4 linked regions of the Homo sapiens genome follow. The protein of the gene in region 1 interacts with the protein of each later gene in a pairwise test. Each region holds a gene or a part of one and is shown in the gene's direction. Other genes may lie near its edges.

Region 1 (4,661 bases):
CTCCGTTCCTGGAGGTGAGTTGAAGCCTTTGGAGAATTTAGGTGAAGGGTGGCCTAATGATACATTTTAGAAATGTCCATCATTCCGGCCAGGCACATTGGCTCACGCCTGCAATCCCAGCACTTTGGGAGGCCAAGGCTGGCGGATCACGAGGTCAGGAGTTCGAGACCAGCCTGACCAACATGGTGAAACCCCATCTCTAGTAAAAATACAAAAATTAGCTGGGCATGGTTGTGCATACCTGTAGTCCCAGCTACTCGGGAGGCTGAGGCAGGAGAATCGTTTGAACCTGGGAGGCAGAGGTTGCAGTGAGCCGAGATTATGCCATTGCACTCCAGCCTGGGCGACAGAGCAAAACTCTGTCTCAAAAAAAAAAAAAAAAAAAAATTCATCATTCCACATGTAGAAACCAGCGTGGCAATGGGGCTGGTGGCTTTCAGGCTGAGTCCAGGGCCGGGCGCGGTGGCTCACGCCTGTAATCCCAGAACTTTGGGAGGCCGAGGCAGGCAGATCACGAGGTCAGGAGATCGAGACCATCCTGGCTAACATGGTGAAACCCCGTCTCTACTAAAAATACAAAATATTAGCCAGGCGTGGTGGCGGGCGCCTGTGGTCCCAGCTACTCAGGAGGCTGAGGCAGGAGAATGGTGTGAACCTGGGAGCTTGAGCTTGCAGTGAGCCGAGATCGAGCCACTGCACTCCAGCCTGGGCGACAGAGCCAGACTCCATCTCAAAAAAAAGAACTTTGAGTCCAGGGCCAAAACCACATTTTTATGCAAAACACCTTTGCAACTTCTTCTTTCAAAGTGTCCAGAAAAGGGGGTGGGGGACTGAAGGAAGTCGTTCAATTTATTCAGCCCTGTGAGATGTGGATATAAAATTCTTTCTGCATTTTTACCATTACTGTCATCATAAATGGTTATTTAGAACTGCACATTGATTGTGTCTCAGGGGTTCTCAGAACCGGCGTTCAGCAGAACAGAACTTAATAAATGCTGATTCAGGGATGCAGAATCGAACACACTCATGCTGTCAACCTGTAAAACAATCCCCTGAATCCTCCCACAGTGCTCGTAGGGGCGAGTTCTGGGCCCTCAAAAGGGCAGTGGCAATAAGCAATCTAGGACAGAATGACATCAAGGTTGCCACGGGAAGGCCCTGTTGGGATTTGCACAGAGAAGGGCGGCGGAAGGGTGTCCAGGCAGAGGAAACAGGAAATGTGGCCGGGAAGCAGAGTTCATGTGAGGGTCAGGAAGGGAGGGGAGCAAGAAAGAAGGCGAGAGAGAGGAGACCGGAGGTCTGAGCTGCAGCCACTACACAGGCCTGGAATTCTACCACAGGGAATTTGGTGGGTGCCTCTAAAGGGCTTTAACCTGCAATTAATGACATGGTTGCTGAATGGCTCCTGTGGGCAAGAGAATAGGTGGTTTGGGGGACACACGGGTTGGAGGCCCGTGCATATCCCAGGTGAGAAATGGCACCGGCTCAGGGCACTAGTGGTGGGATGACAGCAGGCGGATCTGAGCCCCCTTCAGAGGGTGGGACAGGGGAGACTTGGTAGGTGGTTATGAAGGGCTGGCCAGAGAGTGGCCAAGAGACCCCACTTGGCTATTCCAATGGTGGTGGCATCTTTCTCCTGAAGTTGAGGACCCTGGAAGGGGCTAAGGCTCATGCGGGGCCCCTGACACTGGCTGAGGTTCCCCTCCCCGCCCATCTGCTTCTCTGCAGCAGCACGAGTCTCTGGAAAAAGACAACCTCGCCCTGCGGAAGGAGATCCAGTCCCTGCAGGCCGAGCTGGCGTGGTGGAGCCGGACCCTGCACGTGCATGAGCGCCTGTGCCCCATGGATTGTGCCTCCTGCTCAGCTCCAGGGCTCCTGGGCTGCTGGGACCAGGCTGAGGGGCTCCTGGGCCCTGGCCCACAGGGACAACATGGCTGCCGGGAGCAGCTGGAGCTGTTCCAGACCCCGGGTTCCTGTTACCCAGCTCAGCCGCTCTCTCCAGGTCCACAGCCTCATGATTCTCCCAGCCTCCTCCAGTGCCCCCTGCCCTCACTGTCCCTTGGCCCCGCTGTGGTTGCTGAACCTCCTGTCCAGCTGTCCCCCAGCCCTCTCCTGTTTGCCTCGCACACTGGTTCCAGCCTGCAGGGGTCTTCCTCTAAGCTCAGTGCCCTCCAGCCCAGCCTCACGGCCCAAACTGCCCCTCCACAGCCCCTCGAGCTGGAGCATCCCACCAGAGGGAAGCTGGGGTCCTCTCCCGACAACCCTTCCTCTGCCCTGGGGCTTGCACGTCTGCAGAGCAGGGAGCACAAACCTGCTCTCTCAGCAGCCACTTGGCAAGGGCTGGTTGTGGATCCCAGCCCTCACCCTCTCCTGGCCTTTCCTCTGCTCTCCTCTGCTCAAGTCCACTTCTAACCTGGTCTTCGGAGCTGGGTTGGCCCCTTCTTTGGGCTCAGGAAGCAGCCTTAGCACACGGGCCTCTCCTCCCTCACTACTGGGTGCTGCCCTGCGTGGCTGACCAGCTGGCCCAGGATTTCACAGTCGAAAAGGAAGCCACCACTGATGCCTCCCACTGTGACAGGCCCTGTCACCACCAATATCTTATTTCAACCTCACAGTTGACCTGAGAAATCGAGATTATCACTCCACTTTTTCAGACAAGGAAACTGAGGCTCAGGGAAGCCAAGTGACAAGTCCAAGGTCACGAAGACTTTCTTGGAGCCCGAAACACCACCCTCTGCTCCTCCTTCTCCTGTCCTGGCCCAGGCATCCTAGGGGCTGAAATCCTGGAAACCGTGGGCTGGTGTGAGAAGGTTTGCATGCTCAGAGCAGAGAAGGGCTCTCCCCACTGCTTCGTGATTCCAGGGCCAGAGCCATGCAGTCCCAGAAACCCCAACCTAGCTGGGGCAGGTCCAGAGTCCAAGCCCTGGTGGGTAGAGGCCAAGCAGAAGCCCTGAAGTGGACTCTTGCTTCCCCTAGTAGTGTTTTCAGTGCCAAGAAGCTGAAACTGTGAGCTGGAGTTGGGGAGAGGTCTGGAAGAGGACCATCTGGGATTTCTACAGCCTGGGTACCCATAGCCACACCAAGGCTTCTGGGAGATTCTGCAGGGTCAGCTTTCCAGGCTGTTCCCAAATAGCTCCCTGCCTCCCCACTGCCCCTAAAGCCACAGCAGAAGAGCCATTCATCTCATAAACAAAAAGGAAGAGGAAAGAATGAGGAAGGACCCTGTGCAAGGTTATTTGCAGGCAGGGATGGGCTTGTACCTGACAGCACCCACCCCTGTGTGGCCCCCAGGCCCTCATCACCCTCAGACCCCTCCTAAGCAGTTCCCTCATTGCTCTTTGGACTAGGCTGACAGCAGGAAGAGCAGGGCCCATGACCGGGTGGAAGTTCAGTTTTGGTGTCTGCTTCAAGAGGGGGTTTTACACTCTGATTCCAGGACAAGCACTCTGAGGCGGGTGGGGGAGAGAAACCCTGGCTCTTCACCCAGGTTTCACACACATGTAAATGAAACACTATGTTAGTATCTAACACACTCCTGGATACAGAACACAAGTCTTGGCACATATGTGATGGAAATAAAGTGTTTTGCAATCTTTTCTGCTTTGCCTAGTTACTTAAACCTCTCTTTGTAACCTACAGAGTCTTTGAAAAAAGAGAGAATAACAGAGATGGGCAACCCCTCATGAACCAGCTAATTAATCTCCCTCCAATACTACAGATGAGGAAACTGAGGCTCAGAGATGAGACGGACTTGCGCAGGTGTATTAGTCAGTGTTCTCTAGAGAAATAGAACCAATAGAGTGTGTGTGTGTGTGTGTGTGTGTGTGTGTGAAGACAGAGAGATTTTTTTTTTAATGTTGTTTTTTTTTTGAGATGGAGTTTCACTCTTGTCACCCAGGCTGGAGTGCAATGGTGCAATCTCGGCTCACTGCAACCTTCGCCTCCCGGGCTCAAGTGATTCTCCTGCCTCAGCCTCCCAAGTAGTGGGGATTACAGGTGCCCACCACCACACCCAGCTAATTTTTTCCTTTTTTTGAGACAGAATCTCGCTCTGTCGCCCAGGCTGGAGTGCAGTGGTGCAATCTCGGCTCACTGCAAGCTCCGCCTCCCGGGTTCACGCCATTCTCCTGACTCAGTCTCCTGGACTACAGGCGCCTGCCACCATGCCCGGCTAATTTTTTTTTTTTTTTTTTTTTTGTATTTTTAGTAGAGACAGGGTTTCACCATGTTAGCCAGGATGGTCTCGATCTCCTGACATTGTGATCTGCCTGCCTCGGCCTCCCAAAGTGCTGGGATTACAGGCATGAGCCACCACACCCAGCCTCACGCCCAGCTAATTTTTGTATTTTTAGTAGAGATGGGGTTCCACCATGTTGGCCAGGCTGGTCTCGAACTCTTGACCTCAAGTGATCTGCCCGCCTTGTCCTCCCAAAGTGCTGGGATTACAGGCGTGAACCACCACGCCCTGCCAAGGGAGACTTATTTTAAGAAATTGGCTCATGTGATGATGGAGGTTGGCAAGTCCAAATTCTTCAGGGTGAATTGTCAGGCTGGAGCCCCAGGAAAGTGCTGCTGTTGCAGTTCAAGTCCAAAGGCCACCAGCTGCAGAACTTACTCTAGCTTGGAAAAGGTTAGTCTTTTTGTTCTATTCAGGCCTTCAG
Region 2 (3,822 bases), on another chromosome or scaffold:
CCTGGACTTCTCACTGGTGGGAGACTTCAGGCTTCTGTTAGCAGCCAGTGCCACTTTCTGATTTGGGGTGATTTGAGCAGTCATTGCATCTTTGCATGATTTTGTTTTTTGCCATTACTGGAGTCTTCCCTAGCAAGAGTTGCTTGGGCTTCTGTTACAAGACTTTGTCATTCCGGGCCAGGCGCGTTGGCTCACGCCTGTAATCCTAGCACTTTAGGAGGCTGAGGTGGGCGGATCACTTGAGGTCAGGAGTTTGAGACCAGCCTGGCCAACATGGTGAAACCTCGCCTCTACTAAAAGTACAAAAATGTTCCGGGTGTGGTGTCTCACACCTGTAATCACAGCACTTTGGGAGGCCGAGGCGGACAGATCACGAGATCAGGAGACCATCCTGGCCAACATGGTGAAACCCCGTCTCTACAAAAAAATACAAAAATTAGCTGGGCATGGTGGCACTCATCTGTAGTCCCAGCTACTTGGGAGGCTAATGTAGGAAAATCGCTTGAACCCAGGAGACGGAGGTTGCAGTGAGCCGAGATCGCGCCACTGCACTCCAGCCTGGGCGACAGAGTGAGAACTCCATCTCAAAAAAAAAAAAAAAGAACAAAAATTAGCCGGACATGGTAGCGGGCACCTATAATCCCAGCTACTTGGGAGGCTGAGGCAGGAGAATCGCTTGAACCTGGGAGGTGGAGGTTGCAATGAGCCGAGATCATGCCACTGCATTCCAGCCTGAACGACAGAGCGAGACTCCATCTCAAAAACAAACAAGACTTTGCCATACCCTTGCGTAACACATAGCTACTTGAAGCACCTAGGACTGGCCTGGAAGTCAGATCTACACCAGTGGTTTCTCCTTCTAGAGGGCCCTGTTGCTAGGGACTGGATTTACCCTCACAAGCAGGAACTGGGCTTTAATTAAATAGTGGAGTAGAGAGCATCTTTCTGAGCCCCGTGGTCCTTGGTTACTAAGGAGGAGTCTTCCTTAGGAACCAACTTCCAGGATGGGAGGACTTTAGGTATAATCCTCTGGGGAGGTCTCAGGATAGTCCCCTTTCCTAAGAGACAGCTCTTCTCTCAGTCAGGTCCTACTGGGGAGGAGGCTATTCTCTGGCCTCAGTTCAAGGCCAGCAGGTCAGAGGCTGGCCACAGTCATTGAAACCACTTAGACCTCACTTTTGTTTGCCAAGGATGGATGAGGTTGCCTTGGCAACCAGGTCAGAAGGCCCCAGCTCTGCGAGGATTTTATGGGACACCAAACCCCATCACCAGGGCACCAAGCTTTCCTTAGCAACCAGGATCTGGAAAGGCAATGTGCAGGGCAGGGCAGTGCTCTTCATTGGGAGAAGCCCTCAGACCATGAAGGCCTTGTTGCTAGGGAACAAGCATCCTTAGCAAGCAAGAGCTAACTGCATGCAGGCCTTTATCATGTGGGGAGGGCTGGGGTCCGCTTTGCAGAGTGGAGACTTGAAGCGAGTTGCTTGAGGGTGGGGGGTCTATCTCATGCCTTTACTGTTGCTAGGGGCCCAATCTCCTTAGCAACCAGGGCCCTAGAAAGGCAGACCCTTGGGTACCTATCCCAGCAGAGACCTGGTGTGGTTTAGGCCCCGCTGCTGGGGCTCCCTTCCTCTCTCGCTGGGACCTGGGTCCCTCTGGACCTCAGTGCTCTCCCCCTCTTCTCCTGCAGGATGAGAAATACTGGAGCCGGCGGTACAAGAACAACGAGGCAGCCAAGCGGTCCCGTGACGCCCGGCGGCTCAAGGAGAACCAGATATCGGTGCGGGCGGCCTTCCTGGAGAAGGAGAACGCCCTGCTGCGGCAGGAAGTTGTGGCCGTGCGCCAGGAGCTGTCCCACTACCGCGCCGTGCTGTCCCGATACCAGGCCCAGCACGGGGCCCTGTGAGGCTGCCCCACATCCCCACCTGGCGGAGCTCTCCTCCGCCTTGCTGAGACTTACGCCCTGTTCCCTTCCTGCCCTGTGGCCCACGGGCCGGCCAGCTGGGTGCCCCAGGGACGTGATAATGCAGATAAATACATTTATATTTTTAAGAAAAAGCGAGCCTCCCCCCTCCCTTGCGGGGGCGGGGAGGGTTCTCTGTGTGTGTCCCCGGCACGTCAGGGACCCTATCCTCCCACCGCCTCCGTTAACACGATCCTGAATAAATCTTGAGAACCCCAGAGCCAGCTGTTGTGGAAGAAGAGGGCAGCTCCCTGGCATACTGGCTGCAGCCCGTGGGCAGCTCCGGGCTGTCGTCCATAGAGGGCAGGCGCTGCTGGAAGTGCTGGAGTCTGAGTCCTCCCGCGGGCTGTCGGATGGAGGAAGGGCAGAAGGTCTGAGAGGAATGAAGCGACTGCCTTTATTGCATAGACCTTTTCAATTGCTTTTTAGATTGGGGACGGAGGACGCGCATGAGACGAACAGGGGATATGAATTTCCCCGCCCCCACCCGCGGGGAGAGGAACATTAGTGCAAATCCTAGCGCCGGCCCCGGGGAACCTGCCCCTCCTGGGCTGATTGGCCAGCTAAATGGAGGCACCGGAGTGGATGGGGCGAGGCTGCGGGCCCTGACCGGCCGACTCACTGAGGCCTACCCCAGCCAGTACATTCCAGGTCCTGTCATTGGGCGACGCGTAAAATAGACTCCGCCCTCAGCCATCCTGGCCGGGTAGGAGCAGGTGGCAAGCGTCAGGACTGAGCCCTGCCCCGTAAGGGCGGCCCCAGATCAGACGCCAGGCCCCGCCCTCATTGATCAGGCACTACCCTCGGGACGAGCCCATTTCTCTTTAACCGTGACGACGCCCACCTTCCAGCATCACGTCTGGTCCCATGAAAGCGAGCGCAATCCTGAGACGGGGCCAGGGCCCCTGCCACCACAACTCTAGCAGCCAGGCCACACCCCCTAGCTCAGGCTCCGCCCCATTGGAATGTAGGCCCCGCCCCCGGCGGGTACCAAGCTTGTTTAGTTTCAGGGCTCCCGCCCCGGGCAGCCAGGAGGCCCAGTGAGCAGTGTACCGATGCCAGGGTGCATCTGTGCCTGTAGCGGCCCATACTCCACCTGCTCCCCGTCCACTGTGAGCACGCCGCGTGGTGTGAGCGGCTCTAGGCGGAAGGCACGGGCCGCGGCGTAGCCCAGCTGCGGACAGCCCAGGCTGAAGTGGCTACCACGCTCCATGGCCAAGAAAAGGCGCAGCAGCGCAGCCCGCGAGATGCCGCTACGCACCCAGCACAGGTGCACCAGGCCGTCGTCGAAGCGCGCATGCGGAGCTGCCACCAGGTCAGCGCCTAGGTGGCTGGGCGAGATGGCCAACATGAGCACAAAGTCCCCCTCCAGCGTCACCCAGTCTGGGGGCAGCGGGGTGCCCAGCGGAGGCAGCAGGTGGTCGGGCGGGCCGCAGGTGGAGGCCCCTACCCGGGCATCAGGGGTGGGAAGTGGGAGCCCAGAGGATGGGGGAATTACGGGGGCCCCTTCGGAGACGGGTGAGTGTAGAGCTGCCTTGGGAGAGCCAGGAGGTGAAGACAGCAGTGGGTCCGGGGACAGCGGAGCATCCCCAGCCCCACCCCAGTCCCCAGCCAGCTCTGGGCCCCCACCGTTGAGGGACAGGATGGGCAGGGGTTCTGGCGAGCCAGGAGAGGCCAGGGCAGGCTGGGGCAGGGGAAGAGGCAGGTCAGACACAGAACGATGCAGGGGTGAGTGGGCCATGGGCGGGGCTGGGTCTGGGGTTAGGGTCAGCTCCGACTTGGCACGAGGCAGGCTATGGGCAGGGGTGGGCGAGGCAGGTTCCACAGTGGCGGGGAGGTAGGAGAGGCGTCCGCGGTAGGTG
Region 3 (5,532 bases), on another chromosome or scaffold:
TGCCCTCCACAGTGGAGTAAGTGCCATGATGTCGGCTTCACAGGAGGGACTGTGGGAGCGATGGAATTTCAGGCAGTGGGAACATCATGAGCAAAGGAAAGCAGGGGATGAACAGCAACATCCACCCCGCACGTGGCCTCCAAAGCCATCTCTTTTGGGTGGGGCTTCCCACCACGGCGCACACCCCTCATGTTTATGTGGCCCTCCTCCCCTGGTTGCGATGTACCCCCAAACATCTGGGCCAGGAATCATTCAGACCTGGATACCAATTCCAGTGCTTGTACTTCCTAGCTGAGTGAATTTAGAAAGTCACCTTCACCTCTCTGAGCCTCCAGTCATGTATTCCTTCAACATGTATTTACTGTGGGCCTACTATGTGCCAAGCACTACTCCAGGCACTGGGCAGGCAGTGGTGAACAAGATAAGCCTGGCCAGGCGCAGTGGCTCATGTCTGCAATCCCAACACTTTGGGAGGCCGAGGTGGGTGGCCTGAGGTCAGGGGTTCAAAACCAGCCTGGCTGGGCATGGTGACTCACCTGTAGTCCAGCTACTGGGGGGCTGAATTCCTTGAACCTGGGAGGCGGAGGTTGCAGTGAGCCAAGATTATGCCACTGCACTCCAGCCTGGGCAACAGAGTGAGACTCTGTCTCAAAAAAAAAAAAAGAAAAAGAAAAAGAAGCAAGGCCTGCCTTCATAAAACATACATTCTGGTTGGGGAAGACAGACAATAACCAGCACTCACATACATAAATGATGAAACACCCTACAGAAGTATTAAGATAATATAAGAACAAATTTCAAGGCTGGGTGCGGTGGCTTGCGCCTGTAATCCCATTACTTTGGGAGGCCAGCGTGGGTGGATTGCCTGAGTCCAGGAGTTTGAGACCAGTTTGGGCAACATGGCAAAACCCTGTCTCTACAAAAAAAAAAAAAAAAAAAAAAAAAAAAAAATACAAAAAATGAACCTAGCATGGTGGTGTGTGCTTATGGTCCCAGCTACTTGGGAGGCTAAGGTGGGAGAATGGCTGGAGTCCAGGAGAAGGAGGTTGCAGTGAGCCGAGATTGTGCCACTGCACTCCAGCCTGGGTGACAGAGTGAGACCCTGTCTCGAAAAAAAAAAAAAAATTCAGAGGTGAAGACTGCTTTAACCAGGGTGGTCAGGAAATGTCTCTCTGAGGCAGTGACATCCGGGCTGACGTGAAAGATGAGAAAGAGTCAGGCAAGTGAACAGAAGACCAGACAGCCAGTGCCAAGGGCCTGTCGCAGGAATGAGCTTGGTATGTTTGGGGGACAGAAAGAAGGGCACTGTGGCCGAAGAGCAGTGGATGAGGAGAGAGTGGCCAAAGAAGGTGTGTAAACAACCTGAGCTTTGTTTTGAGAAGAACATTGGCTGGTATAGAAAGAAAGACTTTGGAGGCAAAGTAGGGAGCCTCGGAGGCTGCTGCCATTGTCCGGGTAAGCTGATGGTGCCGAGACCAGGTGCCATGACTGGAGGTGGTGAGAAATGGTCCTATGCAGGAGACCTGGAGACACCGCTAGCTTGAGTCCTGAGGTGGGGAGGAAGGGAGAGGGAGGGATGGAGCCAGGCTCCAAGGTTTTGGCTTGAGCAGCTGAGATGGGGTGGCAAGGGAGCAGAGGTAGGGCTGACGATCAGGAGCGGGTTTTTGGGCCGAGTCCTCTGCAGTGCCCATCTGACACCCACTGGATGCGCAGAGTGGGCAGCTGGCTATGAGTCTGGAACTCAGAGAAGCTGTTCGCTCCGGAAATACAAACCTGGGGCTCATAGCCATATAAATGTCATTTAAAGCCACGGGACTGGATGAGATCATTAAGGCAGAAGGTCTAGGTCGAAAGAAGAGGGCCAGGACCACTACCTGTAAAATGAGCCAATGACACCTACACCCACGGGGCTCTCGCGAGGTGTCACGTGAACGCACCCAGCGAGCCCTGGAACCAGGCAGAGAATCGCGGCAGCCCCGGGGGCGGGGCTTCCAGGGGGCGGGGTCATACGGGGGCGGGGCCGAGGGACCAAGCGGCCGCTCCTGGCCGGAGGGCGGCCGGGTCGGTGACGTCACCGCATGACTGGGTTTTTATGAATGAAAGGAATCCTGTGAGTGAGTAATTCCGGGAAGCTCGCCTTACAACTCCGCGCGGCCTCGGCCCCCTGCGCCGCCCGCCCCACAACAAAACTCAGCGCAGCGCTCCCGGGCGCCCGGTTCAGAGCGACCTGCGGCTCAGAGCGGAGGGGAGACTGACCGGAGCGCGGATCGGGACAGCGGCCGGGACAGCGGCGAGACGCGCGTGTGTGAGCGCGCCGGACCAAGCGGGCCCAGAAGCGGGTGAGGAACGCGGGACCAGGAGGACGGTGCGCGGGACCCCAAGGCGGCAGGGTTTCTGCGTCCCGGGATGCGCCTGGGGTGGGCGCCCGGGCCCGATCCGTCGGGGCTCCCGGAGCTCCATCGCCCGGACGGCTCGGGGCGGGGAGAAGGGAGCGGCCGTCCCGGGGACGCCGAGGACGGGGCCGAGGCCAGCTCGGGGGAGTGGGGGTGGAGACGGGGCCCCTTCCCGGGGCGCGGGCGGGTAGGCGGCGGCGCCGGGAGGAAGGGGCAGCGCAGGCCGGCGATCTCCGCGTCCGCCCGGCGGGGGCGGGGGCGCTGTGCTCCTACGTGACTCGGTGGGAACAGGCCCTGGCCCGGCGCCCGCGGGCGGTGCGTGCGCGGTTTGTTTACGTCCGAGGGCGGGCGTGTGTTCCCTGGCGGGCGGCCTGGGTATCCTGCCCGGTGCGTGCGTGCGCTGTGTACCTCGGGGGCGTGTGTGCGTGTGTTGTGCTTGTGTGTGCGTGTCCGCGCGCGCGCTCCCTGGGGCCTGTACACCAGCAGTGTGTACCTCGGAGAGGGCGTGCCCTGGGCCGGCCACCGGAGTAAACGCGGAACAAGGACCCGAGCGAAGGAAGCGGACCCGTGCGTCTTCGCACGGGGTCTGGGAATTCTGGCCCGGGCCGCCCCAGTCCTACTACCCGGGGCTGTCCGTCCCCGGCTCTCCCCGGAGTTTCCCAGGGCCTCCGCCACGTGACCCCAGTGTTTGTCTCCCGCCCAGAGCCCGCGCCCGCAGCCACAGGGTGGGGCAAGGTATCAAAGACCCCACCCAGCTGAGCTAGGAGTGAGGGATGTGAGCCACCCCCGCTTGGCACCCCGGTGGATCTGGTAACAAAGTGAGTTGGAGCCCAGGTTCTTGTCCCCAGATTTTGGGGCTTCCTGGGGAGGGAAGAACCAAGGGACTCTCGTTCGTCCCCAGGGTTGCCCATCCCCTCAGTCCCATGAGAACAGGAAGGGCCAGAAAACCTTGACTGCAAGGGTGCGGCGCAGGGAGAGGACCACAGGCTTTTAGCTAGTCCGGGTTCTGGAGGCTGTACCTGCTAGGTCGTGGAGGATGGGGCGGAGCCGGTTTCCGCTCTCCTGGTAGTTTCAGTTCACAAGTGGGACTGGTGAGACTAGACTGACCTACAGCTGGACGCCGGAAGCTAGCTGAGGCTCTGAGCCAGCCGACAGACCCCGAGTGCCCTCACCCTGGGCCAGGCAGGGTCAGTAGGCATTGGGGATAGAACTCTGACTGCACGGAGGGTTAATGAGTGAGGGGTGGGGCCTGACCTAGCCGCCACCCACCCACTCACCCAATAGCCCTGCAGAAAGCACCTGTTTGTCGTAGCCGCCTGCAGGATGGGCTGGGGGCTAGAGATTCCTTGGTCTTAATCCACCTTCCCCCTCCACCCACCCACCCACGGTCTATGGAATTGTGGGAGGGGAGCAATTGAACTTGCTAGGGTGAGGAACCAATGATCTTTTGACTTTGGATCTTTGAACCCTGGGTGAGCTCTGCTACAGCAGCCCGGACCCTCAGTATTCCCATCTACCACTGGGAACTAGGTAACAGCCAGGATGGCAGGATGGTGGGTAGAAGGGGGAAGCTCTGGAAGTCTGTGCAGACAGCGTATTTTCCAGGTGAATTGTGGAAGAGAAAGCAGGGCTGACAGCCCCATGCCAGGAGCTGGGGGTACCCAAGAGTAGGTGGGGTTTGAGTCAGGAGGGTTGGGGCCAGGAGCACAGGAACCAGACAGGCCCACCCTCAAAGCTGGGCAGGAAACATTACAAAGTAGGGCCTGGGGTCAGGGGATGAGGGGAAGTGGCTGGTTGACTCAGTCCCAGATGGAAAGTTAGCACTGAGAAGTTTAACTTCCCATTGAATCACCCCTGGGCCCTGCATTGCCATTGGGCCCTTGTCCTGGACCAGATGCCAGGGATGAGATGAACAGACCAGATCCAGAGACTGCCCTCTGGGAGCTTATAGCTCAGCAGCGGACACAAACTTGAAAAAAGATCCACAGAAGTAAATGCAAAACACAGCTTAGATGGGTGATGTGAGGGAGAAGTCACTGTGGTTTGAAAGTACATAACAGCGCTCTGACTTAGCCAGGGCAATCAAGGAAGGCTTCCCTGGGGAGGTGACTAGTGTGCTGAGTCTGATAGAGTGGTGGTTGTCTGTGAAGCCCTTGAAGGCAGGAGCTGTGATTCACTTCAGGGTCTCCAGGGCCCAGCACAGAGCCTGGAACATAGTAGGTGCTTCTTGGATGTTTGCTGATTGAATGAATGAGCCCTGGATCCCTGCCCTCTAAGAGCTCCACAACACATGGAGAAAAAGGCCTGGGAACCCCAGAGAAACAGGAAGCCAGGGCAGGGGCTGGGGGAATCTTGAAGCAGTCTCCCAAAAGCGAGCAAATCCTTCAGGACTCAGGCAACTTCCTCCCTCACACACACAGGCATGCACTGCCCGCTTGTCCCTTTGGGAAACATTCAGGGATAGTAGAATTTGCTGTCTGTTCATTCATCTGTTAGCATACGATCCTGGGAGAGAGTGGACAGGAATACGGTTGAGGCCTGAGGACCCTACTGTGTTGGCTTGCGGGGAGGCTGGCATTGCAGGGTTTTGAAATGGGCCAAGCACGGACAGGCTCGTGGGTTTGTGTCAGTAGTGATTCCTCTGACAGCTCTTGGGGGAGGATCAATGATGGGGATTGGAGACGGAGGGCAAGGCAAGAGGCTGGTGAGCAGGCGGTTGTGGTCATGGTCCAGATGAAGGAGGAAGTGGTCTGTGGCTGTGCAGGTGGAGAAGAGGGCTAGTCTGATAGTCTGATAGTTTGTGTCTCATGCCCCCACCTCCAGGAAGCCTTCACCGCTTTCCTTTCCCTACCTCCATTCTGCTGGTGGTCTTGGAGCTCTGGGCCAGAATCTGAAACTCTAAACTCAGAGACAGTCATTGTTGGAAGGTACCTTAGGCTCGGAGGACGTTTGGCATAGTGGGAAAACTGAGGCCCAGAGAGAGGGAGTGCCGTACCTGAGGCCACACAGCGAGTGTGAGAGGGTACCTGAACTGGGGCTGGAACCCCAGGCCGTTGCTTCTCTGTGGTGCTTGGTTCTTCCAGCCTTGCTCCCCTTCCAGCAGGGAGGAGGCTCCAGCAGTGCTGACTGCCAAGAGCTA
Region 4 (4,897 bases), on another chromosome or scaffold:
GTACCTCTAGAAACCTGTGGCACAGTAGGAATGGTCCTGGATTTTTGGAGGCTGGTTTTGGAGTCTGGCCCTGATACCTATTAGCTTTGTGACCTTGAGAAACTTCAGTATCAATAAAATGAGGTAACATCTGCCTTTCAGGGTGGTTGTTAAAATTCAAAGTATTGAAAGTGCCAAGTACGATAATGGCTGGAAATCTAGTTGGCCTTCAGTAGATTTTGCTTGAACTAATGAATTCGCTGGACTCAGCCCTTTCTTATCAAACTATTCTAGTCCATAGAGCAGTCTTCTCCATAAGGACATTATGAGAAAAATGTCTTGCTGAAAAGTAAAGATCTTGCATATTCCCTGATCTACCACAAAAGTAAATAACATTAGTTTAAAAATGAATGATTCTTAGCAAATTGTTAGTTCCTAGAAATCCGCAGTCTTTTCCTCCACCCCTCATTTTTCCTTGTTTAATGTTTAAGTTTCGAATTTTGCCAGAGATAGATGTCAAACTATTAGTCTGTAAAGTCTAGGAATTCTAATTCTTTCTTTTAATTTTGAATATTAAAAATAAAAACACTGGGGGAAAAAAGTTCTGTTTGAATCTCTAGTCTCTTGAGACTGCCCTTCTTCTCCATGTTTTTATAGAGGTTGTCAGAATAGTTCTGTGCTGACATCTGCAGGTTCTTTTGGTACCCTGGAATATAATTCACCAGAATGTGAAGGCATGGACTATTTTAAAATGACCTCTTCTGCTTGCACCTTAGTTCTCTCTTAGTGAGGTTTCCATACTTTCCAGCTTGAAAATCATTTGCTTTTAAGGGAGCAAAATGTTGCTGAGCAGTTTTGTTTTCTTTCTCATTAGAATACGCTATCTATCCTTGGATTTGAGAATTTTAAAATGAGCCTTTCTTACTATACTTTCCATATAGTAAGTATACTATGCACAACATGCACTAAGTCGGTGGTTGAGAAGTAGAACCACTCATGGTGTTATAATGTTAAAAGTTTTGGCAGTAGTAAATAACTCTAATCAGTATCTCACATGGGAAGAGCCTTGTATTTTAAGAATGAATTTATTCCTTGTAAGTTAAAAGTTGTGAAATTAAGAGTGTTTCACAAGGGGCTGAAGGTAACATAAATTAGTGAAGCTGAATGGGAGGGAGTAACAGATATGTGACCCAAAGAGTGAATGCCTAGCTTAGAAATATTCTAATTCAGAACAGTTTCAACACTGCATTGGCCCAACAAAACACTGGCCCAAACACTACTGCAAGTTTGTAGTCTTTGCATGTAAACAGCCTGCAAGAGGCAGAACTATGTAAATTTCACTGTGTTCTTCCCAACATCTAACATACTATAGGCACATGGATAGTTGATAAATAGGAAAACTTTAGTAAGCATTCATTAATCGCCTTGATGTAGAGAACTGTTCTGTACAAAATAAAGAAAAAAATAACTCCTGCCCTTGAGGAATATCTAATCTCATTTGGGGAGACAGCATTTATAAATTAAAGACTAGACTTCAGTTCAAGAACAGAATTCTGAGGAAGGGCGGGAGGAGGACTAGGAAGTCTGCAATAAGGAGATACGGCTTCCCCTATCCTCAAAGATAGTACTTGGGTTTAAGTAAGGAACAGGGGAAAGGGTGCTGGGTGGAGATAAAGGCGAGGTGGTGTGTTTCAACTTAAAGGAGGACTAGGAGTAGGAAATGAGAATGGGTGAGCCAAGGAGACTCACTTGATGGGAGAGGAAATTTCCTTGTATTAGTGAGAAATTAAGTCCATTGGGTAAAAACAGGGCTTTAAAAAATGGTTACATTAAATGTACCTCTCTTCCCCCAAGACACTGTACTGTTAGGCCACAGAAAATAGGAACCATACAGTAACTCTTTAGGTAAAGATGTGGAGTATATGGATCATGAAAGAACTATGAAACTTTAAATGGCAAAATTTTCTGAATTTCTTGGTCCTCTGACCTAGAGTCCTAGTGAATTTGAACACTGTTCTTCCATGTCTCTATACCAGAGTAATGATTCTTTTCAGTGCTCAAAATTACATATACTGCTGCCTAGAATTTAATTCAGTGCACAGCACTTAACACTCTTTTATTAATTTATGCCTCCTACTTGTTCTAAAATGAAGTGGTTTTACTACATAAAGACTAATAGAAATTGAATTTGTAGGGGAGGAAAAAAGCTGTCCTCTACCCTCTTAGGTTTGTGACCAAGGCCTGTGAATCAAACTGATAAAAGAGTAATGGCATAAATAGAACAGATTTAAACACACGTATGCACAGGAGTTTGCAAAAGAAATGTGACTGGAGGAGGTGGTTAGAATTTGGGGCTTATCTACCAACTTAACAAAATGATAAAGCGGGAAGAGGTTCTAGATCAGATTTTCTTTACTAGTTGGTCAGAGCTCCTTTTCATTTTTCTGTGAGGATTTATATTATGGTGCTGGAGGAATTGCTGCAGATTGAAGGTCAACATTCATGGCCATAAATAGGAGTGGCCAGATGAAGCCACCTGGTAGCCAGAGTGAAGCCCAGAAGGGCTTAGGGAAATACCTGCTTGTGTATGTGTGTGGTTTTTTTCCTCTACCTGGAGGACCTGGTAAATGAGATGAAGTATTGATACCTGGACTTAAGACATCTATCGCCTGTTCAACAGTTAGTCTATCATCTAATTGTTCAAAATCCTAAATTACTGTTGTCATTCTTAGATTATAATTCTCTTTCCTCAATTATAATCTGGAGATATAATACAACACTTAATAATTAGATGTTAGTAGCTTTAGGAGACAATCTGGAGAGATAAGAAATGGAAATAACACAGAACATGTTCCACGTTCCAAGGGAAGTTCTAGATGCTTTACATATAGATTCACAATTTTTATTTTTTTGAGACAGAGTCTTCACTCTGTCGCCCAGGCTGGAGTGCAGTGGTGCGATCTTGGCTCTCTGCAACTTCTGCCTCCCAGGTTCAAACGATTCTGCTGCCTCAGCCTCCCTAGTAGCTGGGATTACAGGCATATGCCACCACACCTGGCTGATTTTTTTAGTTTTAGTAGAGATGGGGTTTCACCATGTTGGCCAGGCTGGTCATGAACTCCTGACCTCAGGTGATCCACCCACTTTGGCCTCCCAAAGCACTGGGATTACAGGCGTGAGCCACCATGCCCAACCAAAATCACAATTTTTAGATGACTGAGGTAGAGCCCAGTTCACAGATAAAATCATACCATACCGCTTTATTCAGGTTTATTAGAATCTCAAACATTGTCTCATTTCTTAACAATGTTATTTTCTCTGCCTCTCTATTGAGAAATTTTGGCCCCAAGTGTGACCACATGGAGTCATCCTGAGCCCATCCTGTCAGTGACCAGCTGTACAGTGTGTGTGCTCTAAGTGCCTAAGGATGAAACCGACTTCTCAGTTTCTAAGGTCCCTACAGTAGTGTTCTTTCGGTGACCTTCATACTGACCAAAGTCATATATACAGTATTTTGTAGCTTTTCCTTTTTGGTGAAAGACAAAGAACACTACATTTAAATTATGTCCATTTCTGTTTGCCTGTTTAACCAATGTCATTTGATCCTGTTGTGAATTTATAGTCCAAGTGAATGATTCTCAATACTCCCAGTACAAAGACCTCCACTTACTGTCCAGTTTTCACGGAGCCCTACAAGAAAGTATATTCTTAGTATCCATTATTAGAGAACATATAATGACAAATATGTTACTAGGAACTGAGATATATGTATTTTTTATAAACTTATTTTTTATTTTTTTTGAGACTGAGTCTCACTCTATCGCCCAGGCTGGAGTGCAGTGGCGTGACCATGGCTCACTGCAACTTCCGCCTCCCAGGTTCAAGTGATTCTTGTGCCTCTGTCTCCTGAGTAGCTGGAATTACAGGCACCTGCTACCATGCCCAGCTGATTTTTGTATCTTTAGTAGAGATGGCATTTCACCATGTTGGCCAGGCTGGTCTTGAACTCCTGACCTCAGGTGATCTGCCCACCTCGAGTTATGTTTTAATGAATTGGTATTTTTATTAATCACATCTACACTGAAATTTGAAAGACATTTTATATATATATGCATAAAACTTTTTCAAAGACCACAACATGGTTTTTTTATATATTTACATTAATTCAGGGTGAGACCAATTTTAAGCAATAACTTGAGATATAAGGCATCTTAGAAACCTGTGTAAAGGCTTAAGAATATGACATAAAATGGGACAATGGTAAAATAAACCATCCCTGTTAATCCAGTGTTTAAGATGGACTTCTGGGGAGTTAGCAGCCTATTCGTTTACACAGCAGATTTTAGAAGTTACTTTTTTTTTTTTTTTTTGCTGGTTTTGTGTTTGGGTCCAACTCATGTCCAAATTATGGCCTTTTTGTGATACCTTCCACTGGCATATTCCCAAGGAATTTACTCCTTTTGATGACACTGCACCCAGAATGGAGGAACACAGCTACAAAATGAACTATAAAGAAGGGCTAGGCAGGCATGGTGGCTCACACCTATCATCCCAGCACTTTGAGAGGCCAAGGCAGAAGGATCACTTGACGCCAGGAGTTCACAACCAGCCTGGGCAATATGGCTGTCTCTACAAACAATATAAAAAATAACGTGGGCATGGTGGCACGTGCCTATAGTCGCAGGTACTCAGGAGGCTGAAGCCAGAGAATAGTTTGAACCCAGGAGTTCGAGGCTGCTGTGAGCCACAACTGGCCACTGTACTCCAGCCCAGGCGATGGACTGAGACCCTGGCTCTAGGAGAAAAAAGGTGGGTAGCTGCAGTAAATCACATTTTTTCTTTGACGGACCCAACAGAAGGCCCAGTTGTTGCTAGATCTCTTCCTGAGGATAGTGTCAGGGCTCATTCTATATTTTTA

Evidence for each region.
Region 2: the proteins of BATF2 (region 1) and DBP come close enough for resonance energy transfer, tested with the Homo sapiens proteins (one large-scale study listed by BioGRID and IntAct).
Region 3: the proteins of BATF2 (region 1) and MAFF come close enough for resonance energy transfer, tested with the Homo sapiens proteins (one large-scale study listed by BioGRID and IntAct).
Region 4: the proteins of BATF2 (region 1) and AKAP19 interact in a two-hybrid assay, tested with the Homo sapiens proteins (one large-scale study listed by BioGRID and IntAct).

What each region holds. Positions count from the first base shown.
Region 1 is NC_000011.10:64,986,880-64,991,540, reverse strand, and holds the end of BATF2 (basic leucine zipper transcriptional factor ATF-like 2), read left to right. Parts: intron 1-1,263; exon of another isoform or gene 1,264-1,398; coding exon of another isoform or gene 1,399-1,467; intron 1,468-1,728; coding exon 1,729-2,412; 3' UTR 2,413-3,596; downstream 3,597-4,661.
Region 2 is NC_000019.10:48,628,918-48,632,739, reverse strand, and holds the end of DBP (D site-binding protein), read left to right. Parts: intron 1-1,687; coding exon 1,688-1,903; 3' UTR 1,904-2,710; downstream 2,711-3,822. Other genes in the region: SPHK2 (sphingosine kinase 2), read right to left, coding at 2,967-3,822. UniProt on the Homo sapiens protein: This transcriptional activator recognizes and binds to the sequence 5'-RTTAYGTAAY-3' found in the promoter of genes such as albumin, CYP2A4 and CYP2A5. It is not essential for circadian rhythm generation, but modulates important clock output genes.
Region 3 is NC_000022.11:38,199,874-38,205,405, forward strand, and holds the start of MAFF (transcription factor MafF), read left to right. Parts: upstream 1-2,120; 5' UTR 2,121-2,339; exon of another isoform or gene 2,340-2,365; intron 2,366-3,146; exon of another isoform or gene 3,147-3,211; intron 3,212-5,532. UniProt on the Homo sapiens protein: Since they lack a putative transactivation domain, the small Mafs behave as transcriptional repressors when they dimerize among themselves.
Region 4 is NC_000002.12:190,183,078-190,187,974, forward strand, and holds part of AKAP19 (small membrane A-kinase anchor protein), read left to right. Parts: intron 1-4,897.